Homo sapiens: one gene and its partners. Changing the gene in region 4 together with the main gene of any one other region gives a genetic interaction. Each region holds a gene or a part of one and is shown on either strand. Other genes may lie near its edges. The genes, in order: PSMD1, EBNA1BP2, GTF2E1, CDK1, MRPS23, MTRES1 and GPN3.

The links.
Region 1: changes in CDK1 (region 4) and PSMD1 together harm fitness less than expected from each alone (positive genetic interaction), as found in Homo sapiens cells (one large-scale study listed by BioGRID).
Region 2: changes in CDK1 (region 4) and EBNA1BP2 together harm fitness less than expected from each alone (positive genetic interaction), as found in Homo sapiens cells (one large-scale study listed by BioGRID).
Region 3: changes in CDK1 (region 4) and GTF2E1 together harm fitness less than expected from each alone (positive genetic interaction), as found in Homo sapiens cells (one large-scale study listed by BioGRID).
Region 5: changes in CDK1 (region 4) and MRPS23 together harm fitness less than expected from each alone (positive genetic interaction), as found in Homo sapiens cells (one large-scale study listed by BioGRID).
Region 6: changes in CDK1 (region 4) and MTRES1 together harm fitness more than expected from each alone (negative genetic interaction), as found in Homo sapiens cells (one large-scale study listed by BioGRID).
Region 7: changes in CDK1 (region 4) and GPN3 together harm fitness less than expected from each alone (positive genetic interaction), as found in Homo sapiens cells (one large-scale study listed by BioGRID).

What each region holds. Positions count from the first base shown.
Region 1 is NC_000002.12:231,059,867-231,063,366, forward strand, and holds part of PSMD1 (26S proteasome non-ATPase regulatory subunit 1), read left to right. Parts: intron 1-1,400; coding exon 1,401-1,444; intron 1,445-2,381; coding exon 2,382-2,455; intron 2,456-2,639; coding exon 2,640-2,809; intron 2,810-3,500. UniProt on the Homo sapiens protein: Component of the 26S proteasome, a multiprotein complex involved in the ATP-dependent degradation of ubiquitinated proteins.
Region 2 is NC_000001.11:43,166,488-43,169,290, forward strand, and holds part of EBNA1BP2 (probable rRNA-processing protein EBP2), read right to left. Parts: intron 2,542-2,803; coding exon 2,452-2,541; intron 749-2,451; coding exon 673-748; intron 433-672; coding exon 339-432; intron 1-338. UniProt on the Homo sapiens protein: Required for the processing of the 27S pre-rRNA.
Region 3 is NC_000003.12:120,745,744-120,749,243, forward strand, and holds part of GTF2E1 (general transcription factor IIE subunit 1), read left to right. Parts: intron 1-3,500.
Region 4 is NC_000010.11:60,777,345-60,781,277, reverse strand, and holds the start of CDK1 (cyclin-dependent kinase 1), read right to left. Parts: upstream 2,801-3,933; 5' UTR 2,708-2,800; exon of another isoform or gene 2,610-2,707; intron 1,138-2,609; 5' UTR 1,113-1,137; coding exon 1,076-1,112; intron 1-1,075. UniProt on the Homo sapiens protein: Plays a key role in the control of the eukaryotic cell cycle by modulating the centrosome cycle as well as mitotic onset; promotes G2-M transition via association with multiple interphase cyclins.
Region 5 is NC_000017.11:57,837,163-57,840,044, reverse strand, and holds part of MRPS23 (small ribosomal subunit protein mS23), read left to right. Parts: intron 1-109; coding exon 110-262; 3' UTR 263-2,882.
Region 6 is NC_000006.12:107,031,199-107,034,698, forward strand, and holds part of MTRES1 (mitochondrial transcription rescue factor 1), read left to right. Parts: intron 1-3,500. UniProt on the Homo sapiens protein: Mitochondrial RNA-binding protein involved in mitochondrial transcription regulation. Functions as a protective factor to maintain proper mitochondrial RNA level during stress.
Region 7 is NC_000012.12:110,455,122-110,458,257, reverse strand, and holds part of GPN3 (GPN-loop GTPase 3), read left to right. Parts: intron 1-623; coding exon 624-748; intron 749-2,327; coding exon 2,328-2,443; intron 2,444-2,575; coding exon 2,576-2,672; intron 2,673-3,136. UniProt on the Homo sapiens protein: Small GTPase required for proper localization of RNA polymerase II (RNAPII). May act at an RNAP assembly step prior to nuclear import.

The DNA of each region.
Region 1 (3,500 bases), on a different chromosome or scaffold from region 4:
ATGTATGGAGTGTAGAGTATTTGATTTAGTTCTGGTCCATGGCCAGAGGCTGAGTTTCCAAGCCAGGACAACCATGTAACCAGTTAGTCATAAGTGAAACCAAACCAGAGAATATAAAAATCCATCTCCCTTTTTGGTAAAAGCCGTTCAAATACATTGACTGAGGATAGGTAGCAGTTTTAGTATTAAGTGTTCTGTTATTTAAGATCTGTTCTACATTTAAAGCATTCTGGCCTGTCATCTTACTCCACATCACTAGTTTGCAATTTTTTCTTTTTCACTGATTGAATTTTGAAATTTATCTGTTCCCTGTGCTGTCCATTCAGAATCTCTGTTCTGGACTTGTCATACCAACCTAGAGTACCAAGAGGTTCTTTATATCTGCTTTTATGCTACTTTAGTTTTGCTTGGTAAATTTTGTATCTTTTCCTGTGTGGCTTCCTAAAGATTGCTTAAGCTATTTGGCAAACCTATACTTGTCAATTAGAAATGGCTACATCTAACTAAGTTGCCTTGACACTTTTTAATCAAACCACAGTTTCAACTCGGTGTTCTGGAATGATTTTAAAACCCACATGGAAAGCATTTGAGAGTGGTTTCCTTTGTGGTCTTAGTACAATAATTTCCCATATCATTTTTCCAATAATCCCTTTGACCTTTGACTATATTTCAAGGTGTGTTCTTTTGGAGAGGACAATTATTCCTTTTACTCTCCTATGTTAGTGGTAATACCTTGAGGCTAAGAGAAGCCATATGGAGAACACTGTGCTTGGGTAATTGAATTCAGAATGAGTATGATTGTTCATCATTTGGTAAAACCCAGGTTACTTGTGATAGGAAAGAGGTGCCATAATATACACACCTTGAAATAATTGAAGTATTTTACCTTGTTGATTTGATGACTAAATGCTCCCATTTTTGTAAATAATCTTATAACTGTTGATTTATTTTGTATGAATAATTTTATTCTAAAATTGTATAGGAAAGTTTCCCATTTTAATCAGTAAATTAGGCCAATGGTTCTCAAACTATAGAGAGCAAAAGAATCACAGTACTGGGCCCCATCCTCATAATTTGTGATTCAGTAGGTCTGGAATGGGGCCGAGAATGTGTATTTCTAACAGGTTCCCAGGCAATGCTGTTAGTCCAGGGAACACACTGAAAACCATTGAATTAGGCAAATGATGTAATATATGTGGTGCCATGAGGGTTTGATAATATAGTTAAGTCTTAAACTTGAGATATAAACCTTTACACTTTCAAAGAAAAATAATCATTCCCCTGGAGAAGTTACGCCTCAAAAAAATTGTTTTTCAGCCATCATGTATTTTTGACCAGGTGTTAATTTCCACTTTAGTGAGAATGTGTTTCATAATCATGTTACATCTTTTTTCTCATAGCTGGAATTATTTCTCTTCTGGATGAAGATGAACCACAGCTTAAGGTATGAATTGAAGAATAAGTAACTAGGCTTAGTGTGAATACTGTGAAGCCTTTTGAATTTAGTGATATCTGTAATCTTCCATCATTTAAAGTTGCTGTCCTAGCTGGCTTGTACCCAGTTACTGTAACCTAGCCAGAGAGGACAGTATTTTGGCCACAGCAGTTGGTTTCCCTTGAGTTTAACAAAGCTAAGACAAATAAACCTCGTTACGACACTTGAATAGCCCCCTAATTTCTTTCTTTTTTTTCTTTTTTTAATCTTTTTTCTTTTTTGAGACAGAGTCTCGCTTTATCACCCAGGCTAGAGTGCAGTGTGTGGTCATGGTTCACTGCAGCCTTGACCTCCTACACTCAAATGATCCTCCCACCTCAGCCTCCCAAGTAGCTAGGACTGTAGGCATGCACCACCACACTCAGCTAATTTTTAAATTTTTTGTTGTGATGGGGTCTCACTGTGTTGTCCAGGTTGATCTCAAACTCCTGCTCCTGGGCTCAAGTGATCCCCCCGCCTTGACCTCCCAAAGTACTGGGATTACGGGTCTGAGCCACCACACCTTCCGCTTCCCCCGCCCCAGTTTCATTATCAACAGAAAACACAAAAAGTTGTTGCTTCTGTTTCACATATTTAAAGTTTTTTATTTGATGAAAATTTGGAATGTCCTTCTGGTGGCTCTAGATACTTGATTCCTTTACATCTAAACCAGCAACCTGGAGTTAATTGTTTATATTCAAAGAAGAAAAATGTTGATGATTGAAAACAGAAAAGAAATGTGTAAACTCAAGAAAAAGTGTAAGTTGGTAAATTTTTATATTTGTCATAGAGTAAAAGTTTGAGTAAATATTACTGAGGATTTGATCATTGATTTGCTGAAAAGAATTTTTTAAGGAAGTGTAATGATAAGTCTATCTCAAAATAGGATTTTGGTTATCTTTTACAGGAATTTGCACTACACAAATTGAATGCAGTTGTTAATGACTTCTGGGCAGAAATTTCCGAGTCCGTAGACAAAATGTAAGAAATTATTTTTATAAATCAGAATAAGATGGATCAAATTTAATTGTGAATGTGGGTCTTGTGGCTTATTGATTCATTTAGAAATTTGCTGTTAACTGAATTGTGGCTTGAATATTTAGATTTGGGATTTTTAGGGAAAACCACAGTTTGAACTAGACCTGTACTTCCTAATTTCTTTCAGAGAGGTTTTATACGAAGATGAAGGTTTCCGGAGTCGGCAGTTTGCAGCCTTAGTGGCATCTAAAGTATTTTATCACCTGGGGGCTTTTGAGGAGTCTCTGAATTATGCTCTTGGAGCAGGGGACCTCTTCAATGTCAATGATAACTCTGAATATGTGGAAACTATTATAGGTAATTATCGTCTATCTGGTAAGGCTTTATCTTGTCGGCTTCTTTCTTGCTGTAGTGCACATAGAAGCTTTTTTCCTGAATTTGATGTTGCCAAATTTCATTTTAATTGGAAGTTCCTAATCTTTCTATAATAATTTTATGCAGGCTGAGTTTTTAGATCTGCCCTTCAACTGAGTGCTGGTTCTCAGTGGTTATGATGATCACCAGTCCAGTGAGCCTACTGTTAGAGGAAAAGATTAAATCAGATTAGTATGAGTAACAAGTGGTACCAGTTTGTGTAGTTTTTTCGAATACAGGAAACCATTATTTAGTATCTGCATTGTGCTAGGCACCGTGCTAGTCACTCTGCATACCATGGTTTATTCCACAGCTACCCCATGAGGAAGGAGCTAGCCGTTTTACAGATGAGACAACTTGGATTTTGAGATGATAAAGACATGGTTATTAAATAGAAGGATAAAATTTAAAACCTGGTTTTACTCACTCTAAAACCCATACTGTTTCTATTTGTAACCGTTGTTTTCTTACTTGTTTCCTTATTTTTGAAGGAAGGGGATAACACACAGGCAAGGCTTTGAATTTTCTGACACATATTTCAACCAGAGTTGTAAATTCAACTAGTTATGTAAGATTTGATACAAAGATTTTATAGTGTAAAAAAATGCTTGAAAACTGTTGATGTAGTAAATGA
Region 2 (2,803 bases), on a different chromosome or scaffold from region 4:
AGTTCCAGCTACTCAGGAGGCTGAGGCACAGAATTACTTGAGCCCAGGTGGCAGAGGTTGCAGTGAGCCAAGACTGTACCAGTGCACTGTAGCCTGAGTGACAGAATGAGACTGTCCAAAAAAAAAAGAAGTTTAAAAAGTGCCTTCTTTTACTCTTCAAAGACTGACATGGCTAAAAGGGCCCATCACACAGTCATAGGGGTCCTGGCCCCAGGCAGCAGCTGCACTCTCTGGACTCTATGGCTGCGCCGGTGGAGGTGCTATGTCTGCCATACTCGTGACCTGTGGCCCCATCGCACCTCACAGAACCAAAGAAACCATGCCAAAACCCTTCTCACCCCTTCCTCATCTGCTGGCCTTTGGCTCCTGCCTTCTTGCGCTGTGCCAGAGGTTTCTGATCTCCCTCAAGGAAATCCAGTTTATCAGAGAAGCCTGTAAGTGAAGAAGTAGTTTTGATCAGCACCATTGTATTTTAAGAATAAAAGTTTAAACCACCATATGAGGCTGTTATTTGCTACACTGATTTTAAGAGTCACATCCTGCTCTCCAACACCATTCCCAAAACTTTGATCCGACAGGTCCACATCAACCAAGAAGGCTCCAAAGCACTAAGTGTTCAAATCAACTCTAAAGTACCTGCTACCCTCGTTCCCCTATTAGAGATGTACCAACCTTTCTGATATTTCTTAATAGCATTCATCATATGGGCTTTCTCCTGCTGCCTCTTCTGAAGAACCTCCGTTTGCACCTGTGATATGAACACAAGGACCGTTACAGCCATTCCATACCATTACTCCAGTGTCTACATTGTCTTAATAGCAACACCATGATTAATACCACTACCCTCTGACATTTACTACGTGCCAAAAACTGTGTTAGGGACTCTAAGTATATTCTCAGATCTAGGTATATTCTTCATAGATGAAGATATATCTGTCTCATAACAATCCAGTGAAGTTGAAATTTGTGTTATCCCCTAAACTGAAGCACAGGGAAGTTAACTTGCCCAAGTCGCACAGTGAAAAAATGCACAGCCAAGATGACCCAGGCTGTTTGACTCCAAAGCCAGCACTCACCCTATTATACAATCCTGCCTACAAAACTGAAGTAAATCATGTTTAAGACTACATCGATTTTTCGCATCACATTTGGACAGATTAATTATCTAACTCACTGTTACTAGGCATGAAAGTACCAAAAGGAAGAGAAAAAAACAATGTCCCCAGGTAAAGAAAAGAAAAAAGTTTGAAGGATAAAAGGAGACACTTTATAATACTCTAACAGAGGGTTTCTCAATCTTGATACTGCTACAGTGTGGAGAGAATAATTCTTTGCTGGGGGGTAGGGGCCTGTCCTACACTGTAGGATATTTAGCGGCACCCCTGCCCTCTACCTACTAGATGCCAGTAGTACCCTCCCTCCCAAATTTGACAACTAAAAATATCTCCAGGCAGTCACAGAAAACTCTTGGGGAGCAAATTCACCCCCAGTTAACAAACTCTTCCCCAGTGTTTCCTTAAATTAGGAACAGTGAACTAATAGGCCCAAGTGAGTTTGTCTTTGCTTTTGGTAACTTTGGCTATGTTAAATTAATTACTGGTGTCTTTGAGAGAATCTCAGCCATCCACCTCCAGATCAAAGAAATAATAAATCCGCAGCAGGCCTTTTGTAGAGGACAGGATCCCAGCCTATTCCTACTTTGCTGAGAATGTATCAGTGAAATGACTCCAAACGTGGACAAGAGTTCTGCAGCCCAGATCACAAGTGCTTATGTCCAAATGTTGACGAAGTCTTAACACCCACACCAATCTTCCTCACATTCATTTCTTCCCACAATCCTAACTTTAAAATCTGTCATCTTCTTTCTTAGATGACCATGAAATAAAAAAGGAAAACCAAGAAAAGTTTTAGGGTATGCCTGATCTGGTGTTACATTAGAACTCAGACATTCATAGTTCAAACACGCAGGCAATCTTTCAGATTGGATGACAATCATTATGATAATTTCTTCAGGTACGTGATTATCACATAGATCAGTGAATCCCAAACCAGGATGCATTTCAGAATCACCTGGAAAGCTTTTGGGGAAGAGGGGAAAACAGGCACAGATTCCTGGGGATTCTGAAGTCTAGAATTCTGTTTTGAAAAATTTCCCCTGGTGATTTTGCTATAAGGTCAGGTTTGGAAACCACTCATCTGGACCCAGTGTACAGATGTGAAAACTAACGCCCAGAGAGGTGATTGGCTCACCTGCAGTCACCATACTACTCCTGGGGAACCACTCATGTCCAGGCAAGATTGTGCTCATGAATACCAGCACATACACTGAGAGACGGTAAATACATGATCAACACACAGTTCCGTTCAGTTCAGGGGACCAAGTCAGACCACGGCAATCTCATCTAACACACACTCCGCCTCTTCCTGTTCCCTGCACACTTTTCTTCTCACCTTCTTCCCGTATTTCCTAAGTGCTCGCAGTTGCTTAGCTTTTTCAGACCTCTCCATGGCAGCCTGTTTAGTCTGCAGCTTCTGTCGAATCTACAACACAAAATGCTGTCAGTTCATGTCATTTGAATCTGGAATGACCACTACTTAGGATTCGCTAGAGCAGGGAACAGATATTCCCTGTTCTTTAAACTGCGGAACTTATAAATCATCAGTTCCAACCCCTGAGGACAATGGGGCCCACAGGCTGAGCACTTTACCAAAAGTGCCAGAGTGAAGCCAGAGATTGAAAGTCACCTTCCCGCTCCCAGTGTGCTGTCTGTTTCATTATACAAACTGCCTATTTGTAGCCCAG
Region 3 (3,500 bases), on a different chromosome or scaffold from region 4:
TGTTCTGACAACTGTTGAGGATGTAAAACAACAAAAAATGAAAACGGGGTTCAAGTACAATGTATAGACCAAACCGAAAAGGAGAGAAAAGTGTGTCCAGTAGTATGCTGTGGTACTACTTTGGTGTCGAGCCCAGGTACTTCCCAGGCATCCTTAAGCCCTGGGGTAGCAGGAAGGCTCTAAGTTCACAGATTTGGATCTAGGTGCTACTTTGTTATATCTTACAATATGTAGTCATACCTGAGTATTTATAACCTAAAGTACGTATTTTCTTTTGACTGACTTTTACTTTTCCTTTATTACAGGAAGGGCCTTATATTTTCCCCCCAAAATATATGCATAGATTGGTTATAGATTGGTGTATAGAGTTTCCTTATAGTATGGTACTGTGGATATAAAAATATTTCTTATAAAAAGAGTATTAAATCTGTTGGGTTGATAACCACTGATTTCAAATAAAAGGGTTAGTTGAAACTAGTATTAATAACAGAATATGATTCTCCATTGAAATAGTTCAATGGGATGTCTCTCTTAAAAATTATCCTGTGGAGCCTGGCTAAGATGGTGAAACCCTGTCTCTACTAAAAATTCAAAAATTAGACAGGCGTGGTGGTGCATGCCTATAGTCCCAGCAACTCAGGAGGCTGAGGCAGGAGGATTGCTTGAACCTGTGAGGCAGAAGTTGCAGTGAGCCGAGCTTGCGCCACTGCACTCCAGCCTAGGTGACAGATCGAGACCCTGTCTCCAAAAAAAAAAAAAATTATCCTGTGGGCTGGGTGTGGTGGCTCACATCTGTAATCCCAGCACTTTAGGAAGCCCCCAAGGTAGGTGGATCCCTTGAGCCCAGAAGTTCGAGACCAGCCTGGGCAAAATGGTGAAACCCTGTCACTACAAAAAACACAAAAATTAGTCAGTCATGGTGGTGTCCACCCGTAGTCTCAGCTACTGGGGAGTTTGAGGTGGGAAGATTGCTTGAGCCCAGGAGGTTGAGACTGCACTGAGCCAAGTCACACCACCGAACTCTAGTCTGGACAACAGAGCAAGACACTCTCTCTATGAAAAGAAAAACAAATTCCCTGTGGCCTAGGGAAATTTAACTTGATTTAATCTGTGTGGATAGTCTAGCCATTTTTAGTTTGGAACATGTTAAGTTGATATGGAAGCTGTCCTTCCTAAGCACTTTAATTATATTCTTATTAATCACAACAACTCCACTGAGGTAGTTGATACTATCCTTACTTCTTAGCGAGTAAAAGGTGGCTTGAAATTGTTTAAGGGATTTGCTCAGGATTACACAGTTACCAAAACACAGGCTGTGTACTCTGAATTTCAAAGCCCAGTTTTGTGTTGTTTTGTTTTTTTGTTTTGTTTTTTTTTGAGACTGAGTTTCGCTCTTGTTGCCCAGGCTGGAGTGCAATGGTGTAATCTTGGCTCACAGCAACCTCCACCTCCCGAAGCCCAGGTTTTTATTTTATTTTATTTTATTTTTTATTTTTATTATTTTTATTTTATTATTATTATACTTTAAGTTTTAGGGTACATGTGCACAATGTGCAGGTTAGTTACATATGTATACATGTGCCATGTTGGTGTGCTGCACCCATTAACTCGTAATTTAACATTAGGTATATCTCCTAATGCTATCCCTCCCCGCTCCCTCCTCCCCACAATAGGCCCCAGTGTGTGATGTTCGCCTTCCTGTGTCCATGTGTTCTCATTGTTCAATTCCCACCTATGAGTGAGATATATGCGGTGTTTGGTTTTTTGTTCTTGCGATAGTTTACTGAGAATGATGGTTTCCAATTTCATCCATGTCCCTACAAAGGACATGAACTCATCCTTTTTTATGGCTGCATAGTATTCCATGGTGTATATGTGCCACATTTTTTAATCCAGTCTATCCTTGTTGGACATTTGGGTTGGTTCCCAGTCTTTGCTATTGTGAGTAGTCCCGCAGTAAACATACGTGTGCATGTGTCTCTATAACAGCATGATTTATAGTCCTTTGGGTATATACCCAGTAATGGGATGGCTGGGTCAAATGGTATTTCTAGTTCTAGATCCCTGAGGAATCGCCACACTGACTTCCACAAGGGTTGAACTAGTTTATAGTCCCAACAACAGTGTAAAAGTCTGTTCCTATTTCTCCACATCCTCTCCAGCACCTGTTGTTTCCTGACTTTTTAATGATTGCCATTCTAACTGGTGTGAGATGGTATCTCATTGTGGTTTTGATTTGCATTTCTCTGATGGCCAGTGATGGTGAGCATTTTTTCATGTGTTTTTTGGCTGCATAAATGTCTTCTTTTGAGAAGTGTCTGTTCATGTCCTTCGCCCACTTTTTGATGGGGTTGTTTGTTTTTTTCTTGTAAATTTGTTTGAGTTCGTTATAGATTCTGGTTATTAGCCCTTTGTCAGATGAAAAGGTTGCAAAAATTTTCTCCCATTCTGTAGGTTGCCTGTTCACTCTGATGGTAGTTTCTTTTGCTGTGCAGAAGCTCTTTAGTTTAATTAGATCCCATTTGTCAATTTTGGCTTTTGTTGCCATTGCTTTTGGTGTTTTAGACATGAAGTCCTTGCCCATGCCTATGTCCTGAATGGTAATGCCTAGGTTTTCTTCTAGGGTTTTTATGGTTTTAGGTCTAACATTTAAGTCTTTAACCCGTCTTGAATTAATTTTTGTAAAAGGTGTAAGGAAGGGATCCAGTTTCAGCTTTCTCCATGTGGCTAGCCAGTTTTCCCAGCACCATTTATTAAATAGGGAATCCTTTCCCCATTGCTTGTTTTTCTCAGGTTTGTCAAAGATCAGATAGTTGTAGATATGCAGCGTTATTTCTGAGGGCTCTGTTGTGTTCCATTGGTCTATATCTCTGTTTTGGTACCAGTACCATGCTGTTTTGGTTACTGTAGCCTTGTAGTATAGTTTGAAGTCAGGTAGCGTGATGCCTCCAGCTTTGTCCTTTTGGCTTAGGATTGACTTGGCAGTGTGGGCTCTTTTTTGGTTCCATATGAACTTTAAAGTAGTTTTTTCCAATTCTGTGAAGAAAGTCATTGGTAGCTTCATGGGGATGGCATTGAATCTATAAATTACCTTGGGCAGTATGGCCATTTTCACGATATTGATTCTTCCTACCCATGAGCATGGAATGTTCTTCCATTTGTTTGTATCCTCTTTAAGTTCATTGAGCAGTGGTTTGTAGTTGTCCTTGAAGAGGTCCTTCACATCCCTTGTAAGTTGGATTCCTAGGTATTTTATTCTCTTTGAAGCAATTGTGAATGGGAGTTCACTCATGATTTGGCTCTCTTTTTGTCTGTTATTGGTGTATAAGAATGCTTGTGATTTTTGTACATTGATTTTGTGTCCTGAGACTTTTTGCTGAAGTTGCTTATCAGTTTAAGGAGATTTTGGGCTGAGACAATGGGGTTTTCTAGATATACAATCATGTCATCTGCAAACAGAGACAATTTGACTTCCTCTTTTCCTAATTGAATACCCTTTA
Region 4 (3,933 bases):
CAGTCTCCTGTATGTTTGGAGTTCTATCATCTTAAAGAAAAATATATTTATACTTTAAGAAGGTCTCTTTTTATGCCAAACTAAAACCAACACAAATTCTCTGGGAATTTAAGAAACACACTACACAGCATTAGACATACTAATCACATATTTTTAATTCAGCAGCAAAATTTGTTTAGTAGAATGGGTATGAGGTATTTAAGTGATTTAAAAAAAAAATATATATATATATGTATACACACACACACCTCCAATCGAACACCACACTAACTTGTCACTCCTATTCCACTAAATTCCCTCCAGTATTCCCCCTTGTTTTTCACTATTTCTTGTCAAGTGGGGTCTTTGATCACATTAAAAATATAGTTGGGAATTTTCTTCTGGCAGAACCTATATAAACTGGATTCTATTAGCAAATTATTTTGTACCTGGAGAATCGAGAATGTTCTGCTGGAGTCGAGGAACAGGCGAAGGGATATACCCCTCATTTGTGCCATATATAGATCTAAACATTCCTTCAAGTACCACAGAAAGGGAAGGATTATATACATAAGTTATAATTTTAGAATAGCTTAAACATGTCTATATGACAGGTCATTTATACTTAGGGTAACTAAATAGAAATTTTATTTAAATTAGATTAAGTCAATTATTGTAACCAGTCTATAAAGTCTGGATAAAAATATTTATCATCCTAAAAACAATTGAAAGAGACTAAAACTAAAAATATATTATGAAGTTAGCATAATTCTGCAGCCCTAACCTCTGCCCCTCAACACACATGCAAGTTATCAATAGTGTCTTCAAAATACAAGTACTACTATAAGTGTTTAGTATCAGAAGACTGTAAGACTATGGGGGTGAGGCGAACGGTCATTAGGGATTCGGTAATTTCAATTCTCTTGAAATGTGAGCAAATTTGCGTTTATTAAGTAAAGAACATATGTTAATGCACACTGGTACTACAAGACAACTTAATGGTTGAATTTTAATAAATATTTAAATGTGTTCATATTACAGAAGTTGTAGCATTGTTAAATCATTCCATAAAATTTATTTTACTAAAACCACTCACCTTCTCCAATTTTCTCTATTTTGGTATAATCTTCCATAGTTAGTCAATGGGTATGGTAGATCCTAAAGTGAAGGAAAAACTGACTTAATTACATGCCACTAACTCGAGTAGTTTTAAGCATTAATGAAACACTATATGTAAAGCATTTTCCACAGTGCCTACTGCAGCATAAGTATTCCATAAATATTAATTACATTCAAACAATATTTACAAGGGTAAGGACTCCTACAATAACTTTCCATCCTTCTTGACTCCTGAGACATTGGAAACGTGTATATTCTATACTAGTGTAGTATTTAGCTTCTTCCAATCAAAATAACCCTCAAATTCAGGTATCAACTTGTCTATTCTTTCCAAACAAAAACCAGAATTATGTTCCCTTTTTGTGACACTTTAAAGTAGTACCTGCGTGTGCCAAAGTTATACCCAAATATTTCAACAAATTTATACCGCTTTATGATACTCCTAATTTTATTCAAAACATTATTTTTTAAAGTTATGAGGACAGAACTAAAATGTGTTCAGACTGTTCATTAGGAAAATTTTGTTTAAAACGACAAAAACATTTTAAGTGTTTACAGTTGCCCACGTGACAATTTTAATCTTTTTCCTCTGCTTGCTGAGGTCACAGACAAACATGCTCAAGACTTTCAAGGTACTTTTTCCAAGAGTAGGAAATATCACTTAAGCACCGTAAAACAAAAGAATGAAAAGTGCAATTCCACAGATAAAATTCTAATTATAACCTAAACAATGTCAAGGACTAAGCAGAAAAACGGTATACTTGAATCACAATGAATGGGTTAAAAAAAAAAGCTGACAACCAGAAGTTCAAGACTTCCTCTGAAGTTTGCCAATGAAACGTCAGAACTCCAGGCATAATTACCTAGATTTTTCTAACACCCATCACTGATGATAAAATCATTTATAAAGCACACTCAGAATAGACCTTTAAGTTCTATTTCTCACATTCATCTTCAAAGAAAAATCAATCCAGAAAGAAGCAGAGATGTATCTTTTTAAATGAAAAAAACTGCACTACACTGCTCATGAGAGTTAAGTGCCTGGGCTGACTGTTCTTAACAGCTCCAGGTGGGCCGGGGCCGTGGGCAGAGCAAGCCCAAGAAGGCCCACGAGTTCCAGGATCGGTTTCTCAGGGCGGCCTGGCTCTAGGGACCCGCGCCTGTACCTGGCCCAGGTGCGGTCCCACTTTCCCACCCCCGAGGCGGGATGGCAGGGCGCGCAGGGGCCGGGCCCAGGAAAGAGCCTGCTACTCCGCAGGCGCTCAGCGTGGGGGAGCGGATTTTGCTTCAATCAAGACCCGAAAGCCTCTTCAGGCAGTTCCTGAGAACAGCCGACCTCGACTCATGACTGCAGCCCCGAACCCCCACCCCCACGCCGCCTAACCCCGCCAGGCTGGGCTCCCATAGCCTCCCTCTAAAGCCAGCCCAGTGTGGCTCACACGGCCAGACCCAGGCGAAGGCCCTGCCCACCGCCCCCCGAGGCCCAGCCGGGCCCCGCGCAGATCCCTGACCTCCAGTCCGGCCTTCTTAGAGGACCCCGTTCCTCAATACTCGCCCTCCGAGGCCCTCGGCCGTCCCCTAGACACGACCCTGACCCCAGCCACTGTACCCGGCTTATTATTCCGCGGCGGCCGCAGCGGCAGCTACAACAACCGCGTCGCTCTCCGCTCAATTTCCAAGAGCCAGCTTTGAAGCCAAGTGCGAGCAGTTTCAAACTCACCGCGCTAAAGGGCCCCGGATTCACCAATCGGGTAGCCCGTAGACTTTCAAAGCAGCCAATCAGAGCCCAGCTACGCTGGGCAGGCCTTCCCGGGTGGCTAGAGCGCGAAAGAAAGAGGAAAGGGCGGCTAGAGAAAAAGCAGGAGGGCGGGCGCCAACTGAGTGCGAGCGCAAGCGCTCTCCTCCAGTCGGGAGAGTGTCGTCCTACTGTTTCTAGTCAGCGGAGCAGGAAGCTACTGTTCGCTCCGTTCTTCTTTTAAATTTTTTCTCCCAGCATTGGCACAGTTCAAATTTATTATACTCAAAATAGCTCATCAAAAAAGTGATATTGTGTTTACATCGAGATTCCATTACTTTCACTTCTAATACTTAGGGTTAGGAGTGTATAGTTATGTTTTTCTAAATGCGTGATTTGCGGGCTGGCTCCAAGGAGCACATTTCAGTGACCTTAAGAAGGAAATGGAAAACTCAAAAGACCGCCTCAAAAATGTAAAGGAAAATTTATTATTTATATCGCTGTGCTTTGTTTCTACCTCATTTTTGAATTTAATATTAAATTATTTTATTATTTACATTTTGTTTATTATACAATTAAAAACATTTGAAATGTATTAAATTTTAAAATATTTTCACATCAGAATTTTAAATATATAGAGAGAGGCATGCATTTAGAGACTGGGTCTCATTATGTTGCGCATGCTGGCCTCCAAATCCTGGGCTCAAGCAATCGGCCTCAGCCTCCAGCGCAGCTGCGACTACAGGCACTCGCCACCACGCCTGGCTTAAATATAATTAAAACACAAAAATTCACAATTCTATGAGGGGAGAGAAAGAGGCTTAAATTATGCTTTAAATAATCCAGTGTCAAAAACTCTGTCTTCATTGCCATCCATCATATCCTTGAGAGAGATTTCTGCACTTACTGCAGTTAATTTTTTTTTCCTTTTTCTTGTTCTTTCCTTCTTTCTCTCTTTCTTTCTTACTTTTTTTTTTTCTGTTTGTTTGCGGAGACAATGTCTCCTTATGTTGCCCTAGCTGGTCTCCAACTCCTAGGCTCCAGCAATCCTCCTGCCTTGGCCTCCCAAAGTGCTGAGATTACAGGCGTGAGCCACCAGC
Region 5 (2,882 bases), on a different chromosome or scaffold from region 4:
GTGCTAAATTTTTCACTCAGTGACAGAATGTGCCTAGTTATATATCTTTAGCGAATTAATTGAGTGAAAATGATAACATCTCTGTGATACTTAAATCTGGTCTTTTAAGCAACACGGAGGTAGTCACGTTTCCCGGAAATCCGAACACTTGAGTGTCAGACCACAGACTGCGTTGGAAGAAAACGAGACTCAGAAAGAAGTTCCACAGGACCAGCATTTGGAGGCACCTGCAGACCAGTCGAAAGGTCTCTTGCCTCCCTGAAGGACCTGTATACTGTGTATGCTGGCATTCACACTCTACTCACTGGCTGAATGTTGAGCTATTTTTAAACAGTTGAACTGTGTAAATGTTTCTTGATCTCTAAGGTATTATGTTTGCCTTCTCTTAGTTATTTCTGGGTTGTCACAAAGCTCAGTATCATGGTTTGACAGAAGCAGTTATGTGAACTTTTATGTTAGGACATTACTAAATAAAGAATTCCCTAGCTGCTTATAAAGTAAATTTACTTTGAATTGTAAATAACATGAAGAAACCTTTATAAAGATTGTTCAAATGGGACTCAATCTGACTAGGCTTGCTTTGATGTTTGTTAGTATGTGGGCTGGCTACATCTGATTCCCGGGTACATATTTCTTCTGATCCATCAGACTTATACGTGTACACATGTTGTGGAACCTTGGCTAGCTGGTTTTGTCTGCAGAGAATCTTTGTACTTCTTGCTATAGAACGATTATCTCTCCACTTGAGAGGCCAAGCTGACTTGCGCTTTGTGGTAAGAGTGAGGACCTGTCATTGCTGATACACAAAGACCAAAACTGTAACTTTAATGTCATGGATTGAGTGTGCTGGAGACAGTTAACATAGGCCTGCACAGACTAGGCTGTTCAGTAAATACTTGTTGAATGAATGAGTGAACGAATGGTTATATCCAGCTAAAGACTGGATTCATATGGTGTAGATAACAGGATTGCCAAGAAAGGAGGCAGCTAATTTAGGTGATGCTCTCCACCAGCATCCACCTGCCTCCCTGGGGCCAAAGTGTGCCTACAAGTCCTTATCAACTTCCCTGCCTTCCTCGTTTCCCCAGGTTTTACTAAATACATGAAATATCCCTCTGAGATTGCAGCCTTTGTATATGTGGTCAAGCCAGTGGTTTTTAGCTGTTAGTAGTAAGCTGCTTCAGAAATTCCCTATTTTAAAACTCATGTAGATTTTCTACCCAGTGATTCTTTGTGTATGCTCTCATCTCTCCTGGTACACTGTGAGGCAGGTCCACATCTCACAGTCTGTATATAGTACACATCCATGCACGTGGGTGCTTGGTTCATGCAGGTGAATGAATACATTAGGCAAAAGCAGCTCTCAGCCATGCTGCTTCCCCCTCGACCTTTATCACTGTTTCACAACTGCTTGCATTTGGAGAATGCTTTACTTTTCCGTAGGGAAGTAAATTTCATCCATTCAGAGACATTACACAACCATTGAGACCAAACATCGGGCCAGACCTTGGGAAGAGGACTTAAAAAGCAGGTGAAAGACACAGTCTATTCTCAGAGGAACAATTGAGGGGTCACTCATCTCTTTAAACCTTAGGTTTCTGGTTTTTTAAGGGCAGGTTTTTTTTGCCACAATGATGAATATTTAAAAAATGTTTTTTTCCTTCATGTCTGGATTGATGTCCCATTTTTGCTATTTTTGTTTGTTTTCCTCCTCTGTAGATTTTTAATTTTTTTTTTTTTTTTTTTTTTTTTTTTGCGATGGAGTATCACTTTGTTTCCCAGGCTGGAGTACAGTGGAGCCATCTTGGCCCACTGCAACCTCCGCCTCCCAGGTTCAAGCAGTTCTTCTGCCTCAGCCTCCCAAGTAGCTGGGATTACAGGTGTATGCTATGACGCCCGGCTAATTTTTGTATTTTTAGTAGAAACGGGCTTTTAACCATGTTGCCCAGGCTGATCTCAAACTGCTGGCCTCAAGTGATCCACCCATCTCAACCTCCCAAAATGCTGGGATTACGGGTGTTAGCCACCATGCCTGGCCTTAATTTTTTTTTTTTTTAATTTTGTTTTAGGAGATGGGGGTCTCACTGTGTTACCCAGGCTGGGTGCAGTGGTGCATACCCTGCCGCAGTCTTAACTCCTGGGCTGAAGCCATCCTGGCTCACTTCCCGAATAGCTAGGACTATAGGCATGTGCCACCACGCCTGGCTCTTTAACATTTTTTTTGTTTGTTTTTTTTTGTAGAGATGGAGTCTTGCTATGTTGCCCAGGCTGGCCTGGTCTCAAACTCCTGGCCTCAAGCGATCCTCCTGCCTCAGCCGCCCAAAGTGCTGGGATTACAGGCCTGAGCGACCGTACTGGGGCTGAAGACTTTTAAAGAAGTTATTTGTTGCATAATTCTTTAAAAAAATTATACATGCACATGGTTCAAAACTTAACAGTAAAAAGCTAGTCTCCCACCCCTGTTCCCCAGCCACCCTTTTCCCCTTCCCTGAGGCCATCACTATCACCATTTCCTTGTGCGCTCTTCCAGAAATATTTTGGGCATGGACAGGACACTATGCATACTGTTCTGTACCTTGCTTTTCTAGTTACTATGTCTCAGAGATCCACTGTGATTTAATCAGTGCCCGATTGAAGAAAATGTTCTTTGTTTTACTGTGTTGCAAATGGGCTGCTAGAGTTATGGGATGCTGGATCAAGGAGCAGATCATTTTGAGTTTTGATATCTTCGTCCATAGAAATTGTGCTTAACTATACTCTCATAGCAATGTATGAGAATGCGTTCCCCTACACATTCTGATCTTGTTAAACCAGACTGGGACTCTGGACCAGAAGGGAAAGACCATCCCTGTATAGCAAATATCTGGATGGGGAGAAAGCTG
Region 6 (3,500 bases), on a different chromosome or scaffold from region 4:
GTGAAACCCTGTGTCTACTAAAAATATAAAAAGTGGCCGGGTGTGGTGGTGGGCGCCTGTAATCCCAGCTACTCTGGAGGCTGAGGTGGGAGACTATGGCTTGAACTGGGGAGGCAGAGGTTGCAGTGAGCCAAGATCGCGCCACCCACTGCATTCCAGCCTGGGCAACAGAGGAAGACCCTGTCTCAAAAAAAAAAAAAAGAAAAAAAAAGAAAAAAGGAGAAGAGAAGGAGGCAGCAAAGGAGTCTTTTCTTTTTTTTTTTTTTGAGATAGAGTTTCGCTCCTGTTGCCCAGGCTGGAGTGCAATGGCTTCGGCTCACTGCAGCCTCCGCCTCCCAGGTTCAAGTGATTCTCCTGCCTCAACCTCCTGAGTAGCTAGGATTACAGATGCCTGCCATCGTGCCCAGCTATTTTTTTTTTTTGAGACGTCTCACTCTTGTTGTCCAGGCTGGAGTGCAATGGCGCAATCTCAGCTCACTGCAACCTCTGCCTCCCGGGTTCAAGCGGTTCTCGTGCCTCATCCTACTGAGTAGCTGGGATTACAGGCACGTGCCACCACATTCAGCTAATTTTTGTATTAGTAGTAGAGACAGGGTTTCTCCATGTTGGTCAGGCTGGTCTCGAACTCCCGACCTCAGGTGATCCACCCACCTCGGCCTCCCAAAGTGCTGGGATTACAGGCATGAGCCACCGTGTCCGGCCAGCAGAGGAGTCTTGAGAAGCAGCAGCCACAGGAGAGACAGGAAGAAAACCAAGAGTAAGGTGTCTTGGCGACCAAGTGAAGAAGAGAGGCGTGATCGGTTTTTTCAAGTGCTGCTGAGGAGTCAATTAAGATGAGGACTAACATGACCTTTTGGATTTAGAAAATGAAAGGAGTGGAATTGAGGAGAGTTAGACAACTGTTTTGAGAAGTTTTATGGTAAAGAGGAGCAAGAAAAGAGGTGGTAGCTGGGGAGGAGTGGAGGCAAGAGGTTTGTGTAATTGCTTGCTTTTGAATGAGACAAAAGTAACAGCATCCTCTCCTTTACTATAGCCACCCCCACGTTGATTCATTTCCTCACATATGCCAAGTGCCTGGCTAGGCCTTGGTAAAACACGCAATTCTTGTCATCAGGGAACTGCCATTTAAGTGGAATGTGGGCAAGTAAACTGACTGCCAGGGCACACATGTAAAAGCAGGTCCAGGGGAGGTTGAACCCTGCATCAGCTGGAGCTCAGAGCAAGAATGCCTGAGCTGGGTGCAGTGGATCACGCCTGTAATTCCAGCACTTTGGGAGGCCGAGGCAGGCGGATTACAAGGTTAGGAGTTCGAGACCAGCCTGGCCAACATAGTGAAACCCCATCTCTGCTAAAGATGCAAAAATTAGCCAGGCGTGGTGCCGTGTGCCTGTAGTCCCAGTTACTGGGGAGGCTGAGGCGGGAGAATTGCTTGAACCCAGGAGGCGGAGGTTGCAGTGAGCTGAGCACTGCACACCAGCCCGGGTGACAGTGCAAGACTCCATCTCAAAAAAATAAAAAAATGCCTGAGCATCCTTGAATGCTCATCCTCATTCATCCTTGAATGAGAGAAAAATAACAGCATGCCAATGGACTGGTCCATTATCAAGCAAAAAAATCACTGTTGTAACTTGATATTTCCCCATAGCTCGGTTTCAGGCCACCTTTGCTCTCAGAACTTTGTAGGCATCCTTGCTCTGCGCTCCAGCTGGTGCAGGGTTCAGCCTCCCCGGACCTGCTTTCACATCTGTGCCCTGGCAGTCAGTTTACTTGTCCACATTCCACTTAAATGGCAGTTCCCTGGTGACAAGGACTGTGTGTTTTATACCAAGGCCTACCCAGGAACTTGGCATATGTGGGCGAACGAGTGATTGTAGGGGTGGCTATAGTAATGGGCAGGATGCTCATTTCATTTCTAGAAATTGAATCTGCAACCATTCACTGGTTTTGGTATGTCCTGAGCAGAGGAGTGAAGAACAGGGCACTGTGTAGTCCCTATCACTACACTTAGAGTTTGGGAGATAATTTGTGACTTAATTCAAAAGTAACAAAAAAATGTGTAGTGTTGGTGCAACCAGAGTATGGAAAAGGGCATGTGGGGCATGGCTTGGTAGAGGAGGATGTGACTCGTGTGGAGTCTGGAGGAAGAGGAGACCATGACAAAGGGACAGGAATTTTTCAGTAGTAGATTTTTTTTTTTTTTCAAGTGAGCTATAAGGAACCCAGTATTCTCCAGTGCTGCTTTGGCTTGAGAGGAGCTGGGTGCCTGGTTAGCTTTCTTCTCTGGCACCCCCACTTCCAACTCAGGGCTCCCCTGACCAGTTTCAAAGTCCTGAGGCAGGGCCGGGCACGGTGGCTCACGCCTGTAATCCCAGCACTTTGGGAGGCTGAGCTGGGCAGATCACGAGGTCAGGAGATCAAGACCATCCTAGCTAACATGGTGAAACCCCGTCTCTACCAAAGATACAAAAAATTAGCCGGGCGTGGTGGCGGGTGCCTGTACTCCCAGCTACTTGGGAGGCTGAGGCAGGAGAATGGCAGGAACCTGGGAGGCAGAGCTTGCAGTGAGCTGAGATTGTACCAATGCACTCCAGCCTGGGCGACAGAACAAGACTCCGTCTCAAAAATAATAATAATAATAACAAAGTTCTGAGGCAGAATCTGGGTCCTCCCTTGTGACCCTGAGTGCCCACTGCTAACAACTACAAATGGTCATCATCTCCAGCAAGAATTAGCTTAATGTGTTTCCTCAATTTTATGTTTTTAATGAATTTTATCTAAGCTTCCAACATTTGCCAATGTTTGCCTGCTAGAAAGTTAAGCTGATCACAATGAGAGGTAGTGAGTAGCTAATAAACACAAGGGAATACGTGGCTTGACATTTTGGTATGTTTGTTGAATTTACAAGTGCACCTGATTCTAAATAGTTATTTTCTGCAAGGAAAGGTTTCCTAATGCAGGTAGCAGAGAGCCACATCATATCTAGGCATTCCTCAAAGTAAACAACGGTACGGTATAAAGCTAGGACTTTTCTCAAAGTCAGGAAAAGAGTGTAAAAAAGATACTGAAAAACATAAAAATAGAACTTATGGATGGGGAGTGTGGGCACCCAGGGTCTGACACAGAAACAGGACTACTTCCCTTCCCTAGGTGTCTCCTCTTAGGATATTTTCTAAGTTGGGGCAACAGTTCCTCCCACTCTTCTACCCCTGAAAACTATCTGTTCTCTCTGGTATTGCACTGGTTGGTGAGTTTTTATTCCAGAAAAAAAAAAGGAAAATAGATGTCAGGGTGTGGAAGAAAGAGTGCTTAACTTGGAGTCAGAACACTGATGGACAGTTCAGCATGGTAGTAATGAGTCTAGGCTTTGCAGCTCGGATGCCTAGATTTGAAGAGTATCTGTGTGACCCTATAACTGAGATGGGCTTGTCGCAAGGAACAAATGAGTTAACGTGTAGAGCAATGCCTGGCCCACGGTGAAAACAATGAGCTTTAAGGAGACT
Region 7 (3,136 bases), on a different chromosome or scaffold from region 4:
CCTCCCACCTTAGCCTCCCAAAGTGCTGGGATTACAGGTGTGTGAACCATGGCATCTGGCCAATAACACTCATATTGATTGGCAGAAAACTAAAGTGTGAAGAACCTCATTTTCTTTCTTTCTTTCTTTTTTTTTATTTTTAAAGACAGAGTCTTACTCTGTCGCCCAGGCTGGAGTGCAGTGGCGTGATCTTGGCTCACTGCAGCCTCCTCCTCCCGGGTTTAAGCAATTCTTGTGCCTCAGCATCCCACAGGCGCGCACCACCACGCCTGGCTAATTTTTGTGTATTTTTAGTAGAGATGGGGTTTCACTATGTTGGTCAGGCTGGTCTTGAACTCCTGGCCTCAAGTGATCCACCTGCCACAGCCTCCCAAAGTGCTGGGATTACAGGCATGAGCCACCCTGCCCAACCAGAGAACCTCATTTTCTACATAAAACTTAATAGTTAGGGATTCCTATGGTGGCAGTACCTTAGGTTTTATGATTGCTTTGAGAGGCTGTGGGCCCCTTAAAAATGTGTTGGCTTTTATTTTTGTCCATCTTATGGGGAAAATTTGTTTCCTCTAACTTGATGATTTAACATACTTGCTATTTCTAAAATTCTTGCAATACTCTTCATGTAGGTCAGATTGAGTTGTACACTCACCTGCCTGTGATGAAACAGCTGGTCCAGCAGCTCGAGCAGTGGGAGTTCCGAGTCTGTGGAGTTTTTCTTGTTGATTCTCAGTTCATGGTGGAGTCATTCAAGGTCTGAAGCTAAATCTCTTACAGATTTTTTTTTTTTTTTTTTTTTTTTTTTTGTGTGTGTGACAGAGTCTTACTCTGTTGCCTAGGCTGGAGCGCAGTGGCGTGATCTCAGCTCACTGCAACCTCCGCCTCCCAGTTCAAGTGATTCTTGTGCCTCAGCCTCCTGAGTAGCTGGAATTACAGGTGTGTGCCATCATGCCTGGCTAATTTTTGTATTTTTAGTAGAGACGGGGTTTTACCATGTTGGCCAGGCTGGTCTCAAACTCCTGACCTCAAACATCAAGTGATCCACCTGCCTTGGCCTCCCAAAGTTCTCTTAAAGATTTTTAAACTATGAGTTCAAGCAGATGACAGTTCCTTTAATTATTGTGTGATTCTGAACATTTCACAAATGATTCCAGAGTTACTTTATCCCTTTTATTATTAAATTATAACATGTTGTTAATCAAAAATAGTAAATTATTATATCATAGAGATTTAGGAGGAACTGCTTACCAAGAAAAAAACTGAGGTTGCTGGGTGAAGTGGTTCACAGCTATAATCTTAGCACTTTGGGAGGCCAAGGCAGGAGGATTGCTTGAGCCCAAGAGTTTCGGACCTGCTTGGGCAACAGAGTGAGACCCTGTCTCTACAAAAAATATAAAAATTAGCTAGACGTTGTGGCACATGCCTGTAGTCCCAGCTACTTGGGAAGCTGAAGTGGGAGGATCGCTTGAGTACAGGAAGCAGAGGTTGCAGTGAGCCAAGATCGCCAAGATCGCACCATTGCACACCAGCCTGAGTGACAGAGTGAGACTCTGTCTCAAAAAAAAAAAAAAAGAGGAAGTAGTGGGGGAGAAAAAACTGAAGCAGATGGCTATTTTATAAAATAGTCTATTTTTAATTTTCTGAGGACCTTTTGTCCAGTTTATGAACTACCAAGATCAAATTTTTTATTAATAGCTCTTAAGGAATATTAGATGGGAAAGGAAATTAAAATGCTGTCTAAATTGAAATTTGTGATCACTGTATGTTATCTATATCTTCCCTCACCTTTGGGAACCAAGAATCAAGCATTTGATTCCCAATGATTTGGGAACATTTTTTTCTATATGGCTAGCATTACTTTTAATAAAATATAAATAATTTTGCCTTTTCCACATGTTCTGAACTGGCATTTCTTTTTTTTTTTTTTTTTTTTTGAGACCAAGTTTTGCCGTTGTTGCCCAGGCTGGAATGTGGTGGCGCAATCTTGGCTCACGGGAACCTCCGCCTCCTGGGTTCAAGTGATTCTCCTGCCTCAGACTCTTGAGTAGCTGGGATTACAGGCACATGCCACCATGCCTGGCTAATTTTGTATTTTTAGTAGAGACAAGGTTTCACCACGTTGGCCAGGCTGGTCTTGAACTCCTGACCTGAGGTGATCTGCCCGCCTCAGCCTCCCCAAGTGTTGGGATTACAGGCATGAGCCACCACGTCCAGCTTGCATTTCTTTTATTTAGGCCAGTTCTGTTCCAGTGAGGAATAGAAGACTCTTTATGCAGACCAGGTAACTGTTGGCAACAGTCAGTTCATCTTCCCTTTTCTGTTTCCTCCTTCAGTTTATTTCTGGCATCTTGGCAGCCCTGAGTGCCATGATCTCTCTAGAAATTCCGCAAGTCAACATCATGACAAAAATGGATCTGCTGAGTAAAAAAGCAAAAAAGGAAATTGAGAAGTGAGTTCACTGTTCTTCCATTATTATCAGATCTCAGTTGCAGAGATGAACCTTCTGTTTTATTTAGATGGGAAGTTTGGCTGGTTTATAAACCTAGTCTCCTGAATTCATCAGTCTTTCTGTCTTTTAAAGATTTTTAGATCCAGACATGTATTCTTTATTAGAAGATTCTACAAGTGACTTAAGAAGCAAAAAATTCAAGAAACTGACTAAAGCTATATGTGGACTGGTAAGCTTTTAAAGTTTGGATTTTTTGGCCAGGTGCAGTGGCTAATGCCTGTAACCCTAGCACTTTGGCAGGCCAAGGCAGCAAGATTGAGTCCAGGAGTTCAAGACCAGCCTGGGCAACATAGTGACACCCTATCTCTAAAAAAATTTTTTAAATTAGGCCAGGTGCAGTGGCTCACACCTGTAATCCTAGCACTTTGGGAGGCCAAGGCAGGCTGATCATTTGAGATCAGGAGTTCAAGACCAAGCCTGGCCAACATGGTGAAACCCTGTCTCTACTAAAAATACAAAAAAAAATTAGCTGGGCATGGTGGTGTGCGCCTGTAATCCTAGTACTCGGGAGCCTGAGACAGGAGAATCACTTGAACTCGGGAGGCGGAGGTTGCAGTGAGTTGAGATCATGCCACTGCAGTCCAGCCTGGGCGACAGAGTAAGACTTTGTCTCAAAAACAAAAAAAAATTAGG